Regions from separate parts of the Homo sapiens genome. Here region 2 is linked to region 1. Evidence: fine-mapped expression QTL. A gene starts in region 1. The other region holds a variant in brackets. All regions are shown on one strand. Distances are between the middles of the regions. Region 1 holds the start of INF2 (inverted formin 2). Region 2 overlaps ADSS1 (adenylosuccinate synthase 1).

Region 1 (5,502 bases):
GGGAATGGATGGATGAATGGGTGAATGGGTACATAGGTGGGCAAGGTGGGTGGACATGGGTGAGCAGGCATGTTTTCACTTACTTCATTCTGTAACAATGTCAGAGATCATCTCAGGGCACCACAGTAGGATGCAAAATAAAATCTCAAAAGGGGAAAAAAGATAAAAAGCATTCTGGGTGCTGAACTGATGAAGGAAATGAACCCATGGCCAGGCTGCTGCTCAGGTGGACCCCAGGAAGCCCTTCTGGGCCTGCAAGTGGCCGCCTGCTGCATGCAGGGCTGTCCTGACTGCACGGCGGCGCCAACATCAGGCTGGGAGGATTTCTCTCAGAACGCCCACACCTGCCTGCCTGTTTCTAGCAGAACTCAAGCTGTCGGTGCCAAGGCCTGCTCTCCCCTCATCCCAATCTTCCAGCAAGAGGCAGAGGCAAGCTCTCCACAGGCCTACAGTGGCAGGGCCACTCTTGCACTCTGTGCCAGTGGCCAGGAACATGTGGCTCCGCCTGGGTGTGTCACAGTACCAGCCTGTACCTGCACGACCCTGTTCTCAGGCATCTGGGTACCTGCAGCTGGGGGCCGGCACTTGTGTACCCGGCTCCGAGGAAGGACCGACACCCAGGAGGGGAGGCTCCAGGCAGGCCATGGCTTCCAGGAAGCAGCTCCGGAAGCCGCAGGCAGTGGCTGCAGGTGGTGTGTTTCTGAGGCCAAATCGGTCCTCTCTTCAACCCCAGGGCCAGGAAGCAAGCTCAGAATAGGGCCAGGATGGAGTCTGGGAGCGCTGGAGGTACAGAGGGTTGAGGGTGAGCCACTGAAGGAGAAGAGGAGGGGGCCTCTGTATGTCTCAGAAAATCAGTGCTCAAGCCGGGTTGAACCCTGCTGCCCCGGGCATGGTGGGTTCAAGCCTGACGGAAAACCCCCTTTCAGTGTCCACATTTCCACCCTCCCAGACCTCTGACCTCGGCCTCCACTCCACACACACACACACACATACACACACACACACACAGACACACACTCTTAATCAGGGCCCAAAGCCCTCCTCTGCACTCCCTGCCGACCCCAGGGACTTCTCCAACCTCTCTCCAACTAAATCACATTCACCCCACCTTCTTCACCCTGCTCCGGCCTGTGCTGGCCTCTCTGGACCAGGTGTGCAGCTCGGAAGCACGACTGGGTGCAAGGGAGACAGCCCCAGGCAGGAGCGGCCCTGGGGGCGCTGGGCCTCCCTCCCCCATCAGGGCAGGAAAGGTGGACCCCTCGCCCACACCTGACCTCCTACTCCAGCCTCTGAGTAAGGCTCAGGACTCTGACTTTCCCCCAGGCAGGTGGACAGGGGAGGGGGCTGCAGGTCAAAGCTCACTCCCCACCAACCTCCTCACATTCCTCCATTCACTGGATCAACAAACACACCCACTGCCCAGCACCGCTGCCAGGCATCAGCTCCCAACGCAGATGAGTCAGCCCCGCCCGTGCCCTCCAGGGTGGGGTGGTACCAGGGCAGGCACCAATGTTCGGGTCCAGGAGTGCACCAGGAGACCCAAAGCCCAGCTTGAGGGAGGGCAGGAAGGCCTTCTGCTCTGGAAGGGGCCCTGGAGCCCGGTGTGGAGGGCCGGAGGCCGGCCTTCCAGGTGCATTCCAAGAATTGCAGAGTGCCTGTCTAGGAGCAGCGGCCGCCCAGGTTGGAGGGTGTCCAGTGAGCGCCTGCCTTGGCTGGCTCCTCAGGCACACCCGGGGCTGTGGCCTGCAGCTGCTCCTGCACTGGGGCTGAGCCAGCAAACTTCCGGGGCTGGGGCTGCTGGGCAGGGCAAGGTCCGCACAGGGAGCAGACAGACGCAGCCTGCAATTCGGCGCTTATCCCCACCGGAGCGGAGGCACACCAAAGCCAAAGGACACGCAGCTGGCCTCAAAGCAGAAGCTGCATCGGGGCTGGGAAGCCATTCAGGAGCCCTTTTCTCTCCCCTCGCCCTCACCCTGAGCCCTGGCCGCCACGGCCCACACAGCAGGCCCTCCGGAGAGAGATGTCAGGACTCCGAGTGGAGACACTTTATCCGCATGTTCTTGACCCTCATACAGCCCTTACGGGTACTTATTCTATTTTACAGATGGGGAAACTGAGGCTCCACAGAGTCATATCCGAGCCTGAGGCCGCACAGGGAGTGCTGGCGCCGGTTCTCAGGGCAGGGGTTGTGTCTGCTCTGTCACATGTCACACGGGGGCTCCCCCAGGCCTGCCTTCCTCTGCCCTCCCTCTAGCTGCCAGTGGCCCCCAAACCCCAGGCCTGGTGCGCTGCTTCCTGCAGCTCTGACTGAGGGTCAGACGTCAGAAGGGACTTCCAGAGCTGGGGTCTGGCTCTCATCCAACCAGGCTGGCTTTCAGAGCCGACTATGGGCACGCCCCATGCTGGTCAATGTCGGCGGTGGGGGGATGGGTGCCCCCCTCAATCTAGGAGACAGATGAGGCCGGACAGCAGAGGGGTGGCAGAGAAAACCCACCCCATTGCGACACCTCCGCGGCCCTCATGCAGCTGTCTCCACCAACCGGCGAAGTGCGGCTGCCCAAGACCGCCGAGACCCCATCAAGGGTGGAAGGGGGTCAGGCAGGGCTGCGGAGAGGAGGCCACATGGGTGGCCTGGTTGATGGGTAGGCTCTCTCTCCCCAAAGCCTGGGAAGAGCCATCTCTGCTGAGGGATCCCCGAACGCGGGGACTCCGGATCCGGCTGGCTGGAACGGGAGTCCCGGGCCGGGGCAGAGAGAGGTGAGCGGCGCCTGGGAGGCCAGTCCCACCGGAGGATAGGGGTGTAGGTGGACGGGAGGCGGTGGAGGGCAGGGACGGGGCGGACAGTGGGGGCTGAGGCGGGAGACGGCCCCGATCTGCGCGTCCCACCCCCATCTCCGCCCACCAGGAGCCAGGCCAGCAGGGACCGCGAGGGGGCGGCCAGGTTATTCACGGGAGTGGGGAGACCCCTTAAAGCGCCCTCAGGGACCGGCCACAGTGGGCGGGGCCACCCCCAGCCACCCACCTCCCCCCCCAGGCCCCGCCCCCGGCCCGCGCTCGCTCCCCACGTGGCCGCTGACGGGCGGGGCGGCACCTCCTCTTCCTCCCGCCCGCCCCGCCCGCCCCGCGCCCGCCAGGAGCCACCGTCCGAGCCTTGCGGAGCGCGGCAGTGGGCGCCGGCTGCCCGCAGCCCCTGACCCGGCCCCGGACGGAGCGCCGGCCGCACCACCGCCCTCTGGCCGTTGCCTCACCGGGTAAGTCCTTGGCCTCGGGGTCCGCTTGGAGCTTCAGGGGAAACTGAGTCCGGGAGGAGGCAGGGGCGTGCTTGGGTCCAGGAGCGAGGTTCCGGGCTGCGGCGTGTGTGCCCAGGTGGCGGCGGGCGGTCCGGCGGCGCAGGGTACAGTTCCCGGGCGGGGACCCCAGGGCGCCCCTGGCCCCCCCGGCTCCGCGCGCCCCGCTCGGGACTATGGTCCTCCGCGCCGAGGCACCGCCCGAGCGCGCACTGGCCGCAGAGTGGTGGGCCCAGGGTCGGCCGGGCCTACTCCCAGGGCAGGCGGGATTTCCGCGCCTCGCGGCTGCCACATCCTGACCATGAATCAGCCACAGTTGGGAAAATAAACTTCAACTTCGGGTCCGCCGCCCGGGTGGCACCCCGAGGTGCGCGCCGGCCTGCGGCCCCACCCTGACTGCTTGGCTTCCAGCTGCCCACGCGCAGGTGGGCGCACAGGGAGCCCTTCCCACCCCGCAACCGCTGGCAGGCTTAGGGGAATCAGCCTCCATCACAGCTCTCTGTTCCTTTTGGGTGGGGTAGGATCCAATCCCTGTACGCCCCCAGACCCACCCGTCAACCCTCTAACTGGGGAGTCGCCCCAGGAGTGACCATGACTAAGGAGGGGAAGGCGGGGTGACCAGCTGTGTCCCTGACCGTCCCCAATGCCCCCTGGGGAGCACAGGCGTGGGGGGTGGTCTGTCTGTCTGGGCCTTCTGGGGCTCAAGCTCCCCACCCAGGGCTCCCGCAGCTCAGCTGTGACCACAGCATTACTGCCCACTCCAGCTGGACACACCAGGAGGCAGAGAGGCAGAGACCCTGCCCAGGCAGGGAACCAGGAACCCAGGAACCGGGCCAGAGGTCAGGCACACCCAGAAGGCGCTGGACGTAGGAAATTCCCTTACTGCCAGCCCTGCCCCTCCGTCTGGCACTGGAATGGAGCAGGATACTCGCCCTCTTCCGGCCTCAGTTTCCACATCTGCACTCTGAAGGGTGGGACAGCAGCTCAGGCTGGGACCTGCTCCCTGCCGCCCTGCACTGGGAAGGTGGGGTCCCAGAGCAGTGCCTCAGACCCCGAGGGTGCCACCCAGCCAGGGGCTTTTGGGGTGTCGGTGCTCAGCCCCCAGTGCAGCAAATAGTAGCATTGGGTTCCAGGCCTGGGGTCTGAGACCTCACACTGCTCCCACCCCTACCAGGGCAGCAGCAATTTTCTGTTCTAAAAGCCAGGTTGGTGCAGTGGGCCCTGCCCAGGCCCTGCCCTCCCATCCCTGGACTGTCATGGGCCCTGCAGCCCGGCAAAGGGGATGTCGCTAGTGGGGACGGACCAAGTGGCCAGGTGCGACTGTAGCCTCCACAGCCAGGGCTCCTGAGTTAACCTTCAGGTGAGCGCCCACTTTGTGGAGGAGCTGACGGCTGTCAAGCGAATGACACACACCGCACATGTGGGGACGTGGAAGCTCCTACCTGAAATAGACTCTGCGCCTTCCATCAAAGTGCAGTTACTTCCTGGGTTGGAAAAGTTATGCGGTTCATGCAGGCTGCGGGAGGGGTGGGTGGTGACTGGAAAGTGATGCGGTGCTGCCTGTGGGTGTGGGGCAGGACGCAGCTGGCCCAGCTCTGGACGGGGACAGTGAAGTAAGCTCAAGCCCCTGGCTTTTTGCTGGTGCCTGGAGGTCAAATTTCCCTGTAGTCAGGAATGAGACCTGACTCCCTGCTGCCAGCCCCTCCCCTACCTCCATCTTGCAAACAGCAGGTGTCTGATAGGTGTGTGGTTCATGGCCCAGTGGACACATTACATTGGAGAAGGCACACCCACCTCTGTTTTCAGGATGGTGGACGGGAAGGCCGGGAGGTGGAGGCCACATAGGAGCCAGTCTCTGGAGGGTGGTCCCCAGGGGCCACAGCAGACCCAGGCCTAGTGGACACCTAAAGTCAAAGACTAAGTTCTACCAACGGTGGGAAGGAGAGAGGGCAGGGGCACGGGCTCCCCGTCGCTGGAGGGGTGAGCAGGGTCCAACCACCTGGCCCCCTGTTAGAGAGGCTTCCACTCCTGCCAGCCTCACCCTAGGAGGGAGAGTCCTGCCTGGTCTGCCTCTGAGCACCCAGACAGCCTGGGTCCTGAGCTGGGGTGAGGTCTGCTCACACAGCTGCCCCCCAGCCCAGTGCCGGTATACCCTGGCAACCACCAGGCCAGGAGAGCAGGGCAGACCGGTGGTGCCTGTCCTCTCCTGAGGGGC
Region 2 (5,000 bases), 44 kb after region 1:
GCAGGTAGAGAGCGCCAGGGGGCCACCAGGCTCCCTTGGTGCCCCTAACTCTGGGCCCCCAGCCTGGTCTGAGCCTTTGGGTACAGGTCACTCAAGGCAGGTGTTCTGCACCATCCATCTTCATATCGTCTCTCTCACTCGCACCCTTGCATCACTGTGCTTCTGAGAGTTGGGCGCTTACCTTAATCTACTGTCCCTGACCTGGCAAACAGTGGAAAGGTGGCATGATGTGGCCCTGCAGCTGCTACACCTCTAGGCGCCATCATTCATGCCATGGCTCTGTGACAGCACCCCCTAGAGTTGTGCAGTGTGCAACATGGGTGACTGTCCATGGCAGCTCACAGCATGTGGCTCAGCCCATTGGCCATGCAGGGGGCTCCTTTCCTAGGAGCAGCAGGGCTGGGCTTCCTCTCCACCTGTAGGGGCAGCAGTGGGCATCTTAGGTAAATGCAGGACTCTGCAGCCCCTAGAGGACCCTGAGTGGTGGCTGAAGGATGGATGTGCCCATGGCCTTCCCAGAGCTCAGGTGCCTCAGCTCTGCTTTCAGAGGAGCAGGGCAGCCGAGGGGTGCCTGGCAGAGAGGCCTGCCGGCTGGACGTGGGGACCCTGGAGCTTGGCCTGAGGGGCTGTGGTGGGAGCCGTGCCTGAGCAGGGCTGTCCCGTGGCACACACTCGCCCTGGCTCTTCTGCCCATCACTTATCCCCATGAGGCAGGAAAGACAGAGTGAGTGCGGCTGCCCTGGGGGCTCGGCACTGGGGGGATGGTGACAGGACTCGGGGCTCAGGGCCGGGCTGCCTGGAACAAGCAGACCCTGAGGGGCCCCCTGCAGCAGGATCCATGGACCCATCTACTGGGCCAGCAGGGGCCAGGAAAGGAGAAGAGGGAGACCGGTGGGGCTGGAGGCACCAGTGCGTCTGTGCAAGAGGAGGAAGCCCTGTGAGAGGGCAGCAGCCTCCGGACTGCCCTGCACACCGTGCTGAGAGGCCTGGCGTCCACCTGCAGCCCAAGGCAGCTCCAAAAGAAGGTCCTGGTGCTTCTCCAGGAGGCGAGGCTGGCCCTGATGTTTGGTCCCTCCTCATCGGCCAGCCTCATGGTCAGCCTTGGCTGGTGGCTCCCATGGCAAGGCAGACCCTGGCCTGGACCTGAAGGCTCTGCCTTTGTGCAGAGCCCCAGCCTGACGGTACCAGTTTTCCTTTGTTCCCCTTTGTCCAGCCCTCCTTGGATGCCTTTGCTGTGGGAATCCCAGGCTGAAGCTGGAGGAAAGGCAGGAGGACTTCTTGTCCCCAGCCTCTCACCACGTGCCTGTGCAGCCTGACGTCCTGAGACCTCAACTGGTGATGGGGAGGACAGACTGGTGTCTCTCTGGGGCCATCGTCCTGGGCTCCCCAGAACTGGGAGCCCCTGCGGATCAGCAGGCCCCAGGCTCAGCGTCCTGAGCTGGCTCCTGCTCCCAGGGGTGGCCTGGCACTGGCCCTGCGGTCATTGGACACCCACTGGCCTACGACAAGCCGCGCCTGTTCCTAGGAGCCTGTGTTTGCCCCCAACAGAGCCAGGGTGTGCCTAGCAGGGCGTTCCTGGGCCTGTTGACGTGGGCACTGGGCACTCTGCCATGGTAGGCAGCACTTGGCCTGACTGCCAGGTCATCCCTCGACGCCTGCCCCCCCGCCCAGGCGGGGCTGTGTACAAGGGATAGGCTTCCCTTCTCTCAGTTTCCCTACCTGTCCTCAGAGACCTCACCCCTGACTGCCCCCAAAAGGCAGCAGATGCAGTCGTGGGCATGAAGGTACTCCATGACCCCAGCGGAGAGGAATTACCACATATGTGCCGAGGCAAGGACAGAGTAAGAGTGGGGGTCTCCAGGAGGGTGCTGTGACCCCCAAACCCAGAATCTGTTCGAGTCACGCCAGGGCCTGCCCCGTCCCGATGGACTGAAC[C/T]TGTGCGCCCAGGGCTGACTCAGCGTCTGCTGAGCAGCACAGGCTGAGAGCCCTGCCCATCCGCCCAGGCTGCAGAAGTACCCTGACCCTCCACCCCCACCCTGCCTTGGCGCCTGGCAGCATTAGCTCCCACAAGGCCTCCAGGTGCCCTCAGACCACCCTCCCTCCTGCCACCAGGCTTCCTGCATCTCTCCACCTCCCAGGATCCCCACCCAGTTCACCCAGCACCGCCCCGCCCAGAGCCACTGTCCTGAACTGGTTTCCTATAAGGACTGGGCCCAGCCAGGCAGGGCCAGGCAGAAGTCAGGGCGTGGAGGTGGGGACTCCTGCCCTGCGAAGGGGCTTCAGGGCTCTGAGTGCTGCCTAATCTGCCAGTGTGTGAAGTTACGTCCCAGGAGGGTGAGCCCCCTGCCTGGCATCTCTGGATCTGCCCCCCCTCTGTCCCCAGGGTTGCCCTGCCACGAGGCGCCGGGGCTGTTTCCGTGTAACTCTTGTCCAGATGCATCGTGAGGAGCTAGTGCAGAGGGAGGGGGCCGCCATCACGGAGGGTCCTGCTTGGGCAGGCGGGGAAAGGCTATGTGAGACACCCCACTGCCAGGCTTGTGAGGGTGGGAGGGGAGCTGAGACCCCTCTGCCGGGCAGAGAGCAGTGGGGTGTGGCTGGGAGAATCCCCCATGCGTAGACAAGTTGAGGGCTTTTCTGCCGGGAGGTGAGGCAGGAAGGTGGGGCTGGATCTGGGCTCTGGGGTCCTGGGGACAGAGTGGGCCCCAAAAGGGAAGTAGTGAAGGAGAGACCAGACCAGTCTGTGGGGCAGGGTATCCGTGTGTGGCCCCCCGCAACCCCACCGGGACCCTGCTTACCCTCCAGGTGGAGCTCAAGGAGAGAGGGCAACAGGAAGGGTCCCCCATGCCATCCAGTGGCTGGCCAGAAGTGGGGCTGGAGACCTGGCCTTCTCTCCTGGGGCAGAGACCTTCTGGGGCTCCCTCCAGGCTCTGTCACACTGGGCCTACAGGGGTCTCTTATGGTGGCATAAAGACCAAAAGGTGCTGTAGGGATATCCCTTGCCGTTGGTGGGGGCCTGGCTTCAGGGGCAATGAGCCATCATGGGCCATCAGAGATGCTGCCTCTTCCTCAGCTGTGAAGCGGGGCCTCCTGCCTGCACGTAGGGGAGCCCTATCAGCCGTGCCTTGGGACTGGAGTGTCCCTGTATCCATCATGCCACCAGCCCACCTGCCCTGCAGGAGCAGAGGGTGGGGGCAGCAGGGGACACCCACTGGACCTGTGCCCTGCTGAGCAGAGCCAAGCAAAAGGCAGGAGGGCTTTGGTTCTTGCCCCACCTGGAGAGGGTCCCTAGCTTATCCTCTAGCTTCCACTGGCACAAGAGGCCCTTGGGGAAGCGAAGGCAGTGGCATCCAGGGCGTGGCACAGTTTGCTTGTATCATGTGGCTGTCTCATGGCAGGAGGGGGATTGGAGCCTGCACATGCTAGTCCCAGGCCCTCTCCCCACCATCAGCAGGAATCCCCCCAGAGAGGGGAGCCTGTGGCTGGGTGTTTCCCAGAACAGGGCTGGCTCAGAATGGCTTTTTCTTTTTCATTCTTAGACGGGAGGTGCCTGCCCAAAGGGAAGGGTTTCTGCTAAAGTGGGTGAGGGCAGGTTTGGCCGTGGGGGTGCTGAATTCATGTTCTGTGGGAGGGTTAGGCCTCCTCATTCCTGCATGAGAGGAGCGAGCTCCAGAGCGGGGCCCGCAGCTGCAGAGACCTGCACCAAGCCACCTGGAGGTGTTGGCACCAGCCTGGGCCAGACCCTCCCCGACCCAGGCCCCTGACCAAACTGCTGCCCTCCTTCCAAGGTGCAGGATGCCCACATCCCAGTCCCGCACAGACGCATCAGAGCTGGCCACCAAACCAGACACCCCAAAATCCAACAGCAGTGCCCTGCAGGGACAGACGAAGCCCCATGTGGGTCAGTCCATGTCCGGGGGGTCCTCAGTACCCAAGTGCCTTCAGCTCAGCCGGGTTTCTGTTCCAGGGGGGCAACAACGCCGGCCACACGGTGGTGGTGGATGGGAAAGAGTACGACTTCCACCTGCTGCCCAGCGGCATCATCAACACCAAGGCCGTGTCCTTCATTGGTGAGTGCCCTGCCCCGACCTGTGTGTGAGCAGGAAAGGGGGTGTCAGCCAGCCCAGGAGCCCCACGCATGGGGGCACGGGGCACCAGAGCCTGGTGATGACTGCTCTAGCAGTAGGCTGGACCCCAGCCTCCACCTGCCCCACCAGGCACTGGTGCACAGAAACCTGCATAGCCCGGGCCTGGGCTGGGAACGCAGCTGAGAGGACACAGGGCTGATGGGAGGAGGGGCAGAGTCACATCCACCGCGCAGGAGCGGGAGTGCCTGATCCCTGATCCCTGATCCCTGATCCCTCACATGCACATACTTCCTGTGTGGGCATGGAGACCACACGCCCATGTGCCCGTGACTCCATGTGCATACCTGTGAGTGAGTATGTGCTTGCGACAGGCCTGGCTTCTCGCTGCGTGGCGACCAGGCTGTGTGGACAAGGCCGTGCCCTCCCCGGCCCTGCCGAGCCATGTGGCCGTCCTCTTGCCTGGGCTGCTGTGGCCACGTGGCAGGCCTGGTTCCAGCCCCTTCCCAGTCCGTGCTGCAGAGGGACCTCCTTCCACATCGCCTGCCCCCTCCTGGGTCCGGACACAGCTCCTCCCCTGCAGCCACCTGTGACCACTCAGTGCTCCAAGAGGCGAGCCACCTCTGTCCCCAGGGTTCCGTGGCTCTTTCCCTCCTTCTCTCGGTCAGAAGCCTGCTCTGTGCACCCTGGCCTCAGCTCTTAGCCCAAAACCCCCTTGCTCAGAGAAGCTTTTCCTGATCCCAGTGGCCAAGCCAGCCAGGCCCCTTCTTGTACTTTCCCTTCCAGCTGTTTCCAGACTTCAGCAAGGCCATCCTTGTGATGTATCTGACCCCTTCCCAGCCCGTCAGGAAGTGGGGGTCAGGCGCCTCAGGTGTGTGCCCAGCAGATGCATGGGCCTGGACCCATTCAATGTGAGCA

Evidence for each region. PIP is the estimated chance that this variant, and not a neighbour inherited with it, causes the effect.
Region 2: its variant is the best candidate, but not a certain one, in a credible set for the expression of INF2 in whole blood (INTERVAL, PIP 0.66).

What each region holds. Positions count from the first base shown.
Region 1 is chr14:104,686,489-104,691,990 of GRCh38, forward strand. INF2 (inverted formin 2) reads left to right here and starts at 3,130. Exons shown (of 23, transcript NM_022489.4): 1 at 3,130-3,251. RefSeq lists enhancers at 1,124-2,111, 2,112-3,101 and silencers at 2,794-3,053, 3,154-3,243, 3,264-3,503, 3,594-3,643.
Region 2 is chr14:104,731,056-104,736,055 of GRCh38, forward strand. ADSS1 (adenylosuccinate synthase 1) reads left to right here. Exons shown (of 13, transcript NM_152328.5): 2 at 3,965-4,067. It overlaps LOC124903396 (a long non-coding RNA gene), which reads right to left. Exons shown (of 3, transcript XR_007064365.1): 3 at 3,513-4,086. Among named protein-coding and RNA genes, the nearest start is that of ADSS1, 9.3 kb to the left of the region's middle. The variant C/T (reference allele first, on the strand shown) is at 1,936.